3 separate regions of the Homo sapiens genome follow, and regions 1 and 3 are each linked to region 2. The links come from fine-mapping of genetic effects on gene expression. A gene starts in region 2. Each other region holds a variant in brackets. All regions are shown on one strand. Distances are from middle to middle.

The links. PIP is the estimated chance that this variant, and not a neighbour inherited with it, causes the effect. A credible set is the group of variants that fine-mapping cannot tell apart.
Region 1: its variant is the best candidate, but not a certain one, in a credible set for the expression of NACC2 in whole blood (TOPMed, PIP 0.72).
Region 3: its variant is the best candidate, but not a certain one, in a credible set for the expression of NACC2 in whole blood (INTERVAL, PIP 0.52).

The regions. Positions count from the first base shown.
Region 1 is chr9:136,045,140-136,049,266 of GRCh38, forward strand. The region is part of intron 2 of NACC2 (NACC family member 2); the gene reads right to left. Among named protein-coding and RNA genes, the nearest start is that of NACC2, 48 kb to the right of the region's middle. The variant C/G (reference allele first, on the strand shown) is at 1,996.
Region 2 is chr9:136,093,560-136,097,686 of GRCh38, forward strand. It overlaps NACC2 (NACC family member 2), which reads right to left and starts at 1,730. Exons shown (of 6, transcript NM_144653.5): 1 at 1,630-1,730. RefSeq lists an enhancer at 1-437 and silencers at 1,643-1,772, 2,093-2,192.
Region 3 is chr9:135,984,996-135,989,122 of GRCh38, forward strand. No RefSeq gene overlaps it. Among named protein-coding and RNA genes, the nearest start is that of UBAC1, 26 kb to the left of the region's middle. The variant G/A (reference allele first, on the strand shown) is at 1,927.

The DNA.
Region 1 (4,127 bases), 48 kb before region 2:
TTCAGACCGCCCCATGGAAGTGGGTACCCAGCTTAGGGATGGGTGCCTGACCCCCATGCCCTGCAGAGAGGCACACAGGGGACACCGGGTGGACCCCAGAGAGGTGGGGGTGGAGGGAGCCAGAAGGGAAGGGGAAGCGGACATGCACAGGGCCACCCACTCACGGGCCCACAGGCCCTGTGGCCAGAGCTGTCCCCTGCCAGGAAAGGGTTACCGTCACGGGCCCACGGGCCCTGTGGCCAGAGCTGTCCCCTGCTGGGAAAGGGTTACCGTGGAAGTGTGCAGCTGGTGTCAATACCCAGGCGTGGCTTTGTCTCTGCCAGCCACACAGAGTGACATCTGCCAGCTGCAATTAAACATCTGCCCGCCCGAAGCCACTGCTGAGGGCATGAAAGGGATGGCCGGGCGAGCCCCATCAGGCACAGGAGGGGGTGTGGGCGCAGGTCCGGGCAGCCCCCTCCCCTTCAGAGGACAGGAGAGAAGCCCCAGCATGGCACTACCCCTTCCCTCTGCGAGCTCCATTTCCCTGTCCCTCGACCTCAGCGGTCTGCCATGCCACAGGTGCCCGTCCTCAGCTTGGGTGACAACGGCCACCCCCACTCAATGAAATAACCGTCAGGGCCCCGTGCTGTCATCTGCCCTGGGGTAAAAGCAGCTGCCATGACCGTCTCGGCTGTTGCAGGGACCTGTGGATCCAGATGTGCCAAGGAGACCACGGGAACAGACCCCTGAGCGCAGCTGGGGAGCCCCCACCCCAAGCCCAGCCCCAGCTGGCGCTGCCCACCCGGCCGGCTGCCTTGCCGGGGAAGCCCCGGCTCCCGGTGTCCCTGCTGGACGTTCAGATGCCCCCGAGCCCTGAGCCCCAGCGGGAATGCAGCCGCACCCTGGGGGAATGAAGGCGGGTACGCGAGGAAGAGGGCCCGAAGAGGAAAGGGGCTCCCGCTCAGGCCACAGCACCACCAAGTCCCAAGGCACAGGCTCCCTCTGCCCGGCCCACCTCCTGCTCTCTGGAGGGGCTGGCCCCTGACTCACCCCCGTGGTGGGGCGGGAAGGGATGGGGGTGCAGGGGAGGCGGAGGCAGGCATTTCGCAATCTCTAGCTCAGATGCAAGGCCCCTGACAACGCCAGGCAGGGACGCCTGCGCCTCACCCTCTGGGAGGTTTCCCCATCAGCCAGAGGGGAACTGCACTGGGCGTTTCCCTTCCGGTGGATACGATGTTTTTCTTTCACCCCTGGGTGCACCCCACCCCCAGCTCATCTTGCTCCGGGGTCTCCCGAGGCTGCCGGCCACAGGGCCAGGAGGAAGGTCCCTGCCTGCCGCAGGGGTGATGGCTTAAGGCCCAGGAGGGCGCCCTGAAGTGACTGCTGCAGAGATGAGGGCTGGTGGGTGGGAAGCACTGAGCGTCCCGAGCCAGCGTCCACCTGATGGGGACCGAGACGGGGCCTGCCTCGCTGCGGGTGGGGGGGCTTGAACTCGGCCCCATCAACCTCACACACCCATGCATGGCGCCTTCTCGCAGCTTTGCTCCTGACTGCAACAAACTGAAAACAACCTGAATGTCCTTTGATAAGGCACTGGAGAAATCAAACGTGGCGGCTCCTTCTGACGGGTGGTGACGCGGGACCTGGAGGGAGGGAGGAGAGGCACGAGACAGACACCGCATGGAGACCCTTGCCGTGAGGCCACACAGACCATGGGGCGGGGGCTGTGCCGGGGACAAAAGGCAATTAACTTTATCTGTAATATTTTGACTTATTTCAAAAACAGGAGAACAGCCCTACAGGACAAACTGTCCATGGTTCTTAACGCGAGAGAGGGTGGAACAGGCACACGCATTACCACACACCAAGGTGCAGCTCCGGGACCCTCGGCAATCGCTCAGGCCCGCCTCTCACTCAACAGGTAGGGAGACTGAGGCCAGGGAGGAGGAGGAGCTCAGCCTGCAGGGACCTTAGAACACGCTAGTCCTACCAGCCCAGAGAGACAGCTACCTG[C/G]CTCCACTCCTGCACGGCCTGGCGAGGGCAGCAGCCAGCCTCCTGCGTGGGTGTGAGGACGTTCCCCGGACGAGCCCGGGACACGGAGGGCACGGGGAGCTAGCACCCAGGGGCAGCTCCAGGTCAGGCGACGGCCCCTCCCTCTACCTGCTCCCCCCATGGCACCGCCAACCCAGCACACCCAGCGACGCCAGCAACGTCACAGCCAGTAACCTAGATTTTAACCAAGAAATCACACACCCCCTTTCTCTGCCCCACTTATGGGCTTGCCGAACAGAAAAACCATGACAAGAAACCCAGACTGTGGCATCCAGAGCCAAACTGTATGGTAGGTGGGCGGGAGCAGGCCTGGCCTCCCAGCCGCCCACTTTCCACCTCGCTGGCATCAGCGACACCCGTGCAAAGGCAGAGAATGCCGCGCAGCACCTGCGGCCTGGACAAAGCCCTGCAGGAACATGGCCTTGAGGGTGTCCCCACCCCTCAGCCCCAATGGGACTGTACCTCGTGTGGTCTGAGTACGGGGGAGTTGGAGGGAAGGACTCACCAGAGCAGCTGCCTCCCGTCCCCACCCAACACACATCCGGGACTCCACAGAGCCGCTTCCTGGCTGCGGTCCTGCTGACTCCCCAAAAACCCATCAAGGCAGGTGGGCGTGAGGGCTTCTAGCTCACGAAGTCCAGGCGATGTGAGGGCTTAAGGCTGACCCAGCACCCAGGGGCAGATGCATGGGACAAGTCACGAGGCTTCACCGTGCTCCCAGCAAACCCGACACCCAGCCCTGGCTCCCATCACCCCAAACACACCAAGGCCCAAGGTCACATTGGAGCAGCAGGGGGCTGTGCAGGGAGGACCCTGGGAAGATGTTTGGATACGATGGGTCTGTTTCCATCTCCATGGTGCAGCTCCCTGACCCGTCGGCAACCCGTCGGCAGGGCCCTGTCTGGCTGCCATTGTCGGCAGGGCACTGTCTGGCTGCCATCAATGGGGGATGTCCTCAGGGACTGTAGGGGTGCCCAGCCTGTCTGGGGTTCTGCCCTGGGACTGGAGCCCATGGACAGAGCTCCTTCCCAACAGGGGCCCTGGGTGGGCCTTGGGAGCCTTCCCCAGCAGCCTCTGGCTGGTCCCCTGCCTTCCCTGGGGTGGCTGTCAGCAGGGGCAGAGGGAAAGCGCACATGGGGCGGATTCCCCGGAGGCCTCAGCCAGCCGGGTCCACAAGCACTGACATCCTGTACGGCCTCTGTGGTGAGCCGGAGCCCGGTGTGCTCTGCCCTCAGGAAGGGCCAATTCCGTAGCTAGCAAAGCTCCCAGTCTCAGGACAAATCAAGCCCTACCCCCTACCACTAAAAGAAAACAAAAGCTGTGAAGCCCAGATCGAGGTGGCCTGTGAGCTGGCATTCTGTGGGATTCATGCAAACACAGCAATATACATTTAAACCAAGTGCGGAGTTCTCAGGAAGACACCACGGAGCCCAGAGCACCTGCTGGCAAGGCAGTGGCTTCTCCTGCAGGCGGAGAGGGAGCCAGGTTGGCCAAAGCAGTGGTTACCCTGCTGTCCCGGCTGTGGTGACAGACGCTGCACAGGGACCCAGCTGGCCTAGGGGTCCAAGCTGGTGGGTGGTCCTGGCCCCCTCTGCCCCCAACCAGCACTGCAGGAGGGGAAGGGCAGGGGGGCGTCCCATCAGGGCACAGGGATATGCGTGGTGGGGTGGAGAGAGTCCCTACACTGCCCCTCGGGGTCCACCACCTGCCCGTGGCTGGCATTATGCACCCGCACCCAGGCCCAGGCCGCTGCACACAGGCCCTGCATGCAGACCAGCCAGGTGGCCAGCCCAGACACACAGTCAGGTTGCAGGGACACCCGATCCTGGGCACCAACTGTGGGACTCTGCCCAGCAAAGCCTGAACAGTCTCCAGAGGCTGTAACCAGGAATCTCCAATTAGGGCAACCTGGGTTTGTGGGGCCCAGGACGGGGAGCAGCCCTCCTTGAAAGAAAGGAACGGAGAGGAGGGGGAGCGACTGCTCACTCGGCTCAGCACACTGGGCGCTTCCTGGCCCATCCCTGGCGCGGGGCCTGGAGAGGTGGTGGCAAAGGGGCTGGGTTCAGGGGACTCTCTAGACCTGGCCGGGTGAG
Region 2 (4,127 bases):
GAAGTGACAAGTGATATCTTGTTCCACTCTCTGTGCCCATTCCAAGTGGCTTTGCCGAAAGGACAGGGGGCCACCACCTTGGGTGGCAGCTCCTTTTATTTCCTCCCCTTGGACTCTGGCCCAGCTACCACCCAACAGTGACCCCAGGGGAAAACGCCAAGAGGCCTCTTTAAGGGAGGGGCTGGGAAAGGCCCCACAGAGGACCAGAGGGGTGCTCCAACGGTGGCCGGGAGAAGAAGGGGTGGGTGGCTGAGAGGTGGCGGGTGGGGCGGGGGCTGCCTGAACCCTGACCTAACTCTAGGCGCCCCTGCTGGGGGGTGCTACAGGCTAAAACACCCTGCAGAATGCTGAGCTGAGTGTCCCACTGGAGAACAGGAGGGAAGGAGGTCAGGAGCCTGCCAGACGAAAAGAGGGGTGGGTGAGAAGAAGGGGCGACCTGGAGGGACACGGACTCTGGCAGGAGAGTGCGGCCGCGCTGGCGGGCGGGAACACCAAGGTGCACGCGCTCCCGGAGGCAGCTCCACGGGATGGGAGTCCGGGCTGCCTTGGGCACCCCCGGGTCAGCACCCCCGCCACACACAGGAAGGAACGCGCAGCAGAGAACACAGCTCAGGGCACCCAGCGGCCCAGGGAGACGGGCCCACCAGCACGTGGGTGAAACACCTCCAATCCGGAGGCCCCGCGCGGGGGTTGGGGGAGGGAGTGGAACGGCCTGGGAGGCCAACTCCAGGGACCCGGCCTCGCGGCCTTCAGACCCACAGGTTTAAGCGGCTCCACGACGAGAGTCCAAGACCAAACTTCCCCCAGAGCCTGGCAGAGGGGCTGGGAGGTGACCTCTGACCTCCGACCCCACACGATCCCAGCAAGAGAAGCAGGAAACTCCGTCGGAAGGCCTCGGTCCGCCCTGGCCGTGCGGGGTGCGCGGCGGGCCCCGGGCTCCGCTGAGTTTCTTAGAGAAGGAGCTGGGGCCCCCCGACCTCAGCTCCGCAGAGGCACAGAAGCTGGCAAGAGGCAGAGCCCCCTCCCCCTGCGGCCGGACCCCAGTTTCTCCCCAGGCTGGGGCCCGAGTGGGGGAGGCGCGGGAGGCGGTGACGACCCACGAACGGGCCCACCTGGACCGGGAGGGCGAGGCGCGGGCCCGGCTGGGCCAGGCAGCTGCGCAGATGCGCCGGGAGGGGTGGGTACCTCCGCCCTGGCCCCGGGCCAGTCCTGCCCCGGCTTCCCCACCCGGAGGGCTGGATCGGCCAGTCGGGTCCCTGGGGAGGCCGCGCGGGTCCCCAGAAATCCAGGGAAACCCAGCAGGCGGCGGGGAGCGCCCCGGGACGCCCGGAGCCGGGGTCTCCCCGAACGCGCGGCGCGGCGTCCCGGCCCGGGGTCGCGGGCGCCTCCGCCGGGACCCCCCGGCCCCGCCCGGCCCCCCTCCGCGGGCTCCCGAGGCCGGTTCCCGCGCGCACGCCCGGGCCGGCGCGGAACTCGGCCGCACCCGCCCCGCGCGGCCGGCACTGCGGCAGGGGGCTCGCGCCAAGTTGGGCGGCCGCGGAGTTTGCGGGAAGTGCGGGCCCGGCCCGTGGGACGACCCCGCCCGGCGGCGTAACCCGGGGGCGGCCGCGCGCGCCAAGTTGGCGGTACCTGCGGGCGCCCGGCCCGGTCCGGCCTGGGCAGCTGCGGCGCGCCGCCCGCGGCAGGAAGTGCTTGGCGTCCCGGCGCTCCGGCTCCCATGGACTTTCTCCGACCTCGCCCAGCACCGGCGGCCGCACCGCGGCGGGGGCGGGGCGGCGGCGGGGGAGGTGCCCGCGGGCCGTTAAAGGGACAGCGCGCCGGCCGCGCGCGCGCGCGCACTGGCAGCCAGGTGGGCTCCCGGGGTCGGGGCTGGGGTCCGGGGGCCGGGAGGGTCCCCAGTGGGGGCCGGCGGGGCGTGGGGAACCCCGAGCGCTGGGGAGGGGAGGCGGCAGCTCCTCGCCCCTCGCGCGTCCTCCTTCCGGAGCTGCCGGCGGTCGACCCTGCGCGGGACACCCGGCGGGAGCCGGACGCCGCGGCGCAGAGGACGGAGCTCGGCGGCCGGGTCGGGAAAGGACCTGGAGCGCCGCCCTCCGCCCTCCCCGGGCCCCGGCCTCGGCCGGACTCGCTAAGCCCGGGAGAGCCCCCGGGCCCCCCTACCCCGCCCCCGGCGCGCGCCCTGCCCGCGGCAGTCGCGTCCGCACGGTGCAGCCTCCGGGATCCGGGCGGGGGAAGTGCGCGCATCCGCAGCCGCCCTGGACGCTCAGGCGGGCCGTGAAAGACGAGGATACGGGAGCGCCCTTGGGCGAACGTCTGCGGGGCTCCGGCGCCCGTCCCTGCGGCCCGGGAACTGCAAGCTGCCTGGACTGGGCCTGGCGCTGCCTTCAGGCCTGGTGTGATCCGGGCGCACTGGGGCGTTGACAGTCATTCCGGCACCGGCCACGCAGCTCTCCATCTGCCCAAGGCCACGCTCCTGAGGACAGAGGTGCAGTTTTAAAACAAGGGCACGGAAATAAAACGGCCACACACCCGGAAAGACCCAGAGACCCCTCCTCAGCTGCCCCCTAACCTGGGGCCTGAGGTCAGGACAGGCTGCAGTGGTCCTCAGAGGCTAAGCCAGCCTCACTCCCACAGCACGCTCAAGGGTCCTTGCAGGAGAATGGAGTGATACCGCCTCAGTGGTCCCGAGCGAGGGCGCTGGGAGAAGGGTTGAGAAGGAGATGGCCACCAGCATCCCAGAGAACGCCTTTGGGGCTCTGGGGATCAGAAACCTGGGGCTACAGCCCTTCTGGCACAGTCAGCCAAGGTCATTCCCTGGACAAATCATCAGAAGCTTGGCCAGGTTCTTGTCACCCCAACCTCAAGCTAGGCCCTTGATCTTGGCCACAGACTGGCCCTTGACCCCAACTTTAGGTTCTATTCAGCTCTGCGTCCAGAACACACACACACACACACACACACACTTCACTCCCTGGCTTGCCTTGTATGGGGGTGAGTATGGAACCCCGCAGGGACTCTGGGCTCTCCCCACAGAGTCCCATCTAGACCTAAATGCAGTCCCAGGTCCCACACCCCAACCCCCCTCCCCCCACCACTGCCACTTCCAAACCCGCCCCGCAGTCTACTGTGGGAAGGAGGTGGGGTAGGAGGGTTCTGAGTGCCTCCTACACCCAGGGCATGAGCTCAGCAGCCTCAGGGTTCTGGTGCTTCCTAGGCCTGACTTTACAATCTCTGCAGGATCTCTCAGTGAGCATAGCTACCCCAAGCCCCTGAGAATCGTGAATCCCAGAGACAGATGCCTGGAGCTGCTTCCAGCCCTGGGGCAGGCCTCAAGGGGCTACCCACTAGGACCCGTGGCCCTCCAGGGATGGGAATGATTGTTTTAATCACTTTTATTTTCTAAATATTAAAGACATTCTTCCTTAGTGAAGGATATTTGGAAAGCATTGAAAAGTGTTTAGAAGATAGCGGATAAGCAGAAATCAATTCCCCAATTTCTGTGTGCCTATACGTATGTACACCAACATATATTTGCACCTTTTAAAGCAAACCCTGCATCCCTACTGAATTCCAGGCCCGTGCTACTGAGTATGTACACCTTACCGCATTTAACGTTCACAACAGTACCATGAGGTGAGCTCTGTTTATTCCTTTTTTTTTTTTTTTTTTTGAGTCCGAGTCTCACACTGTTGCCCAGGCTGGGGTGCAGTGGCGCGATCTCAGCTCACTGTAACCTCTGCCTCCCGGGTTCAAGCGATTCTCCTGCCTCAGCCTCCCGAGTAGCTGGCATTATCGGCACGTGCCACCACGCCCAGCTAATTTTTGTATTTTTAGTAGAGACGGGGTTTCACCATGTTAGGCAGGCTGGTCTTGAACTCCTGACCTCAGGTGATCCACCTGCCTCAACCTCCCGAAGTGCTGGGATCACAGGTGTGAGCCACTGCGCCCAGCCTTATTCCCGTTTTACAGCTTAGCCTGGGGCTCACTCAGGGGTCCCCAGCAGGGCCTGGGCTGAGTGGGGCTCACCCCGGGTGCATCCTCCGCATCTCCTCCCTGCATTTGATCTTGTTGATTCCTGGCTGCTACAAGGGCCTGGGGGCCACAGTCTCAACTGAGCATAGCAGCACCGC
Region 3 (4,127 bases), 110 kb before region 2:
TTCCTGAAACTTTAAACCTTTAAATGCTAAAGCCAGCCGGGCGCGGGGCTCAAGGCTGTAATCCCAGCACTTTGGGAGGCTGAGGCGGGCAGATCACATGATGTAAGGAGTTCGAGACCAGCCTGACCAGCATGTTGAAACCCCCTTTCTACTAAAAATACAAAAATTAGTCGAGCCTAGTGGCATGTGCCTGTAATCCCAGCTACTCAGGAGGCTGAGGCAGGAGAATCGCTTGAACCTGGGAGGCAGAAGTTGTAGTGAGCCAAGACTGTGCCACTGCACTCCAGCCTGGGTGACAGAGTGAGACTCCTTGTCTCAATAATAAATAAATAAATAAATAAATAAATAAATAAATAAATAAATAAATAAATGCTAAAGCCTATTAGGCTATTTTTTGTTGGAAAGTCTCCTAAAATTCACCTCCTAGTGTCCCGCCTTATCTGGGAGAGCCTGGGAATCAGGCGGGGAGAGCTTCCTGGAGGTGGTGTCGGCCTCCTCTCCCTGCCTTTTTCCCCCTTCTACCAGAAGGAAGGCCATAAGCCGCCACCCGCCACTGGGCCCTGGCCTGGCCCTTCTGGCCAGGGCTCCCATACCCGCCATTGTGTCCTGGGCATGCGGCCTTGCTGACGCTGTCTCCTCCCCCAGCTGCTGAACACGGGTGGGTCAGTCTCCAAGCTTCAAGCTTCTTGACCCCTGTGAAGCGCTCTGCTCACGTGTTGGTTGGGACTCGGGTGAACACGAGGCAGCGGAGGCAATCAGAAAGGACGCGCTGAGGGCTGCGCTTACCCCCATCTCTCTTTCCCTGGGGTAGGCCCCTTCCTCCTGCTCCTCCTGAATGCTGGCACCTGCGCAGCCCTCTGCCATGACTCCAGAGCCAACCCATGCTCACAACCTCCACGTGCTGCCCCCAGCTGGCCTGGGCACTCGGCCTCCCCCTCTCCTAGGTCCAGAGAACGGGTCTGAAAGCCTGTGGGGGCCAACAGCAGCGGCCTGTTCCCCAACCTGCACCTCCAGCCCAGGCTGTCCTCCTCATCCTGCGTTCCCGGGCCTGGTGTGGAGCTGGACACGTCCCGAATGTCCCTGTGTCCCTGCGCAGGCATCAGGTCTGAAATGCCATCGGTGCTTCAGGCTCTCGTGTCCGCGTGGCCGGCAGGATGCTTCTTCTGAAGTGGACCGAGAGCCGTTCACTCGTGCCAAGGGGTGTTTGAGAACGGAGCCAAGTGCAGGGCCTGCAGGGGCGGTGCTGGAGGGTGAGGGGCGCCAAGGGCTGTGGCCGGGCCCCTGCAGCCTCCCTGTCTGCCCTGGGGCCCCCTCAGCTTAGTCCCCTGCCACAGCCAGTGCCAGCAGCAGGCGAGACTGGAGGGGGCCTAGAGGACCTGGCCTGCCCCACTCCCAGGTGGGGAGGTTGAGGCCCAGGGAGGGGAAGGAGATCTGGCTTCAGGGTGAGATGGGCAGGGCAGGAATGCTGGCCCTGCCCAGCGTGAGCTTGAGCAAAACACCCCACCCTGAACCTTTGCTTCCTTCCACAGAAAATGAGGGTGTCCATGGCGCCCGCCTCGGGGGGTTCCTGGGAGGAAGCACCCAGGGCCAGCCTGGGGGGCACGCGGTGGGCGGTTGGTGCACACACAGGCCCTTGGCTCTGACAGGCCTGGAGCAGTGCAGGGGTGCCGTGCCGGGTCCTCAGCACCGGCTCCCAGGCAGCCAGGGACTTCCCGGAGCTCCCTGGTCACCAACCCAGGCTTGATGGAGGCCCCGGCTGCATCTCTGACCCCTGACCCCTGACCCCAGCCTGCACCAAGCCCCACACGTGACTGGAATTTCGCCTGCACGTTCGGCCTGGTACTCACAGGAGGCTCCGAGCAGCCCACCCTTTCGGACAAGCTGGTCGGGGCCTCTGGTGGTCCAGCCCTCCACTGCCATTCCCGG[G/A]GGGCCTGGGCCCCTGCCCCTCCCCTGGCTGGAGACATGGGGGTGCAGCCCCTCTGTCCAGGCCCAGCAAGCCGGGATCCCATCCGGCCAGAGTCCACACTGCCTCTGCCAAGTACGTGACGGTTAATGTCATCACCGTGTGCACAGCCCTCTGTGTTACAGTGTGTAATATAAACTCAAAAATTAATTTTCTCACCTTCAAAAAGCGTCTTTAACTGCTCCTGAAAGGAAATATGGCTAAAACCATAATTTTAACGTCAATTCTTATTAGAAGGTCACGTTTGACCAAATTCTTTTGTTAGCTCATGACTTTGCATTTTCTCCTCCTTAGAAAAAAAATCTCCTTTATCTGCTTTAGCCCCGATTTTAAAAATGCCCAAAGGGGCTGGGTGCGGTGGCTCATGCCTGTAATCCCAGCACTTTGAGAGGCCGAGGTAGGTGGATCACCTGAGGTCAGGAGTTCAGGACCAGCCCGGCTAACATGACAAAACCCCATCTCTACTAAAAATACAAAAATTAGCTGGGTATGGTGGCATGCACCTGTAATCCCAGCTACTCGGGAAGCTGAGGCAGGAGAATCACTTGAACCTGGGAGGTAGAGGTTGCAGTGAGCTGATATTGCACCACTGCACTCCAGCGTGAGCAACAGAGAGAGACTCCATCTCAAAAAATAATAATAATAAAATAAATAAACAAATAAATAAATAAATAAATAAATATGCCCAAAGGAAAATTAAACAGTCCTATCCCTGCCCAGTCTTATGTCTGCAGGTGGCAAGCGTGGTTGCAGGATGACCTTGGGTCACTCTGGGATGTAAGGGTTTTCCAGACTCCACGCCGGGTTCTGACACTGGCCCCCGTGAGCTCGGGCCCGTGTGGTCACAGGCCAGTTGTCAGAGGATCCTTGGTCCCAAGGGAAACTGTGTGGCGTTGCAGAAGGGGGTGCCCCTCTTTCTGCTGTTGGGGACCACAAGCCAGAGTGGATCCCCTCCTCCAGTATGGGTCCCCCTGGGAGCCCACAGGATCCTGAGGCAGGACCCCTAGGTGATCTCTGCCATGAGCAGCCCCCGTCCTTGGCCCCCGCCCATCCTCTGGCCTCTGGGGCCGGGCGGAGCGCGGGGCGTTGGTGCAGGAGGGCTGGGGTTGCACATCCTCCAGGACCTGAGCATCTGCTGGATTTTTCTCAAATGATGAGCACGCCCCTCCCTGGGTGGGGAGTCTCCCTGGGTTGGGAGTGTGTGGCCAGCTTTGGGATTCCCAGAGTCCCTCAGAGCCTCAGGGGCTGCTCCCCGGGGACCCGACTCACAAGCCAGGTGTCACAGGAGGCGACTCCAGGGCACTGCTCGCTGGAAGCAGGTAGGGCCCAGACAGTCAAGAGGTGATGCAGGGACCAGCGAGGTGGCCCCACCCTCATAGTGCCCCGCCTGATGGGGCCCGCTTGGGCTGGGGGCTCCTGGAGACAGACTGGCAGGCTGCTGGCTCTACCATCGTTCAGCAGAACCTCATGCGTAAGAAGTAGGGGAAGGCATGGGATCATCATCCCCTCCTGATAGAGAAGCTGAGCCGCAAGTGGGACTCCTAAGAGGAGACGCCTGGAGACGCCTTTAGTCTTAATATGTTCCCGTGTGTGCATATGTGCACGTGTGTGTGTCTGTGTGCACAGGCGCGTTGGGGTACAAGAGTGAACACAGCACCCGGGAGCATTCCGCATCTGCTCACAGTCTCAGCCTGAGGCAGCCGGGCCAGGCTTGCTGGAAAACAAGCCCCGGGATCGGACCAAGCAGCTGCCCCTCCTCGCACTCTGCCTGGCAGCCCCCAAGGCAATGGGAGAGTCCCAGAGCCACCTCCAAGCCCCCAGAGTGTTTGGTAAGTAAGCGGAGGCCGAGGGTCCCCAGCCTGAGGCGTGGAGCTGGGCCCCTTCCTCTGGGCCCCTGGGGGAGGTGGGTGCACCGTGTTCCCCGGGCAGCTCTGTCCCGAAGGCTCGCAGGCCCCTCCCTTCAGCAGGTTGATTTTCAGTGCCCAGAGAACAACAAATCACTCTCTGACAATAATGGGGATGAACAGACACTTAATTATGAGGCCACGAGACAGCGCGATTATTAATTTTAAATTGTGCAACCCAGTCCTGAAGGCTGAGCCTGGAGTGCTATCCCAGGGGCTCACGGGAGCCTGGGAGCCTCAGGGCTGGCCGGAGCTCAGAG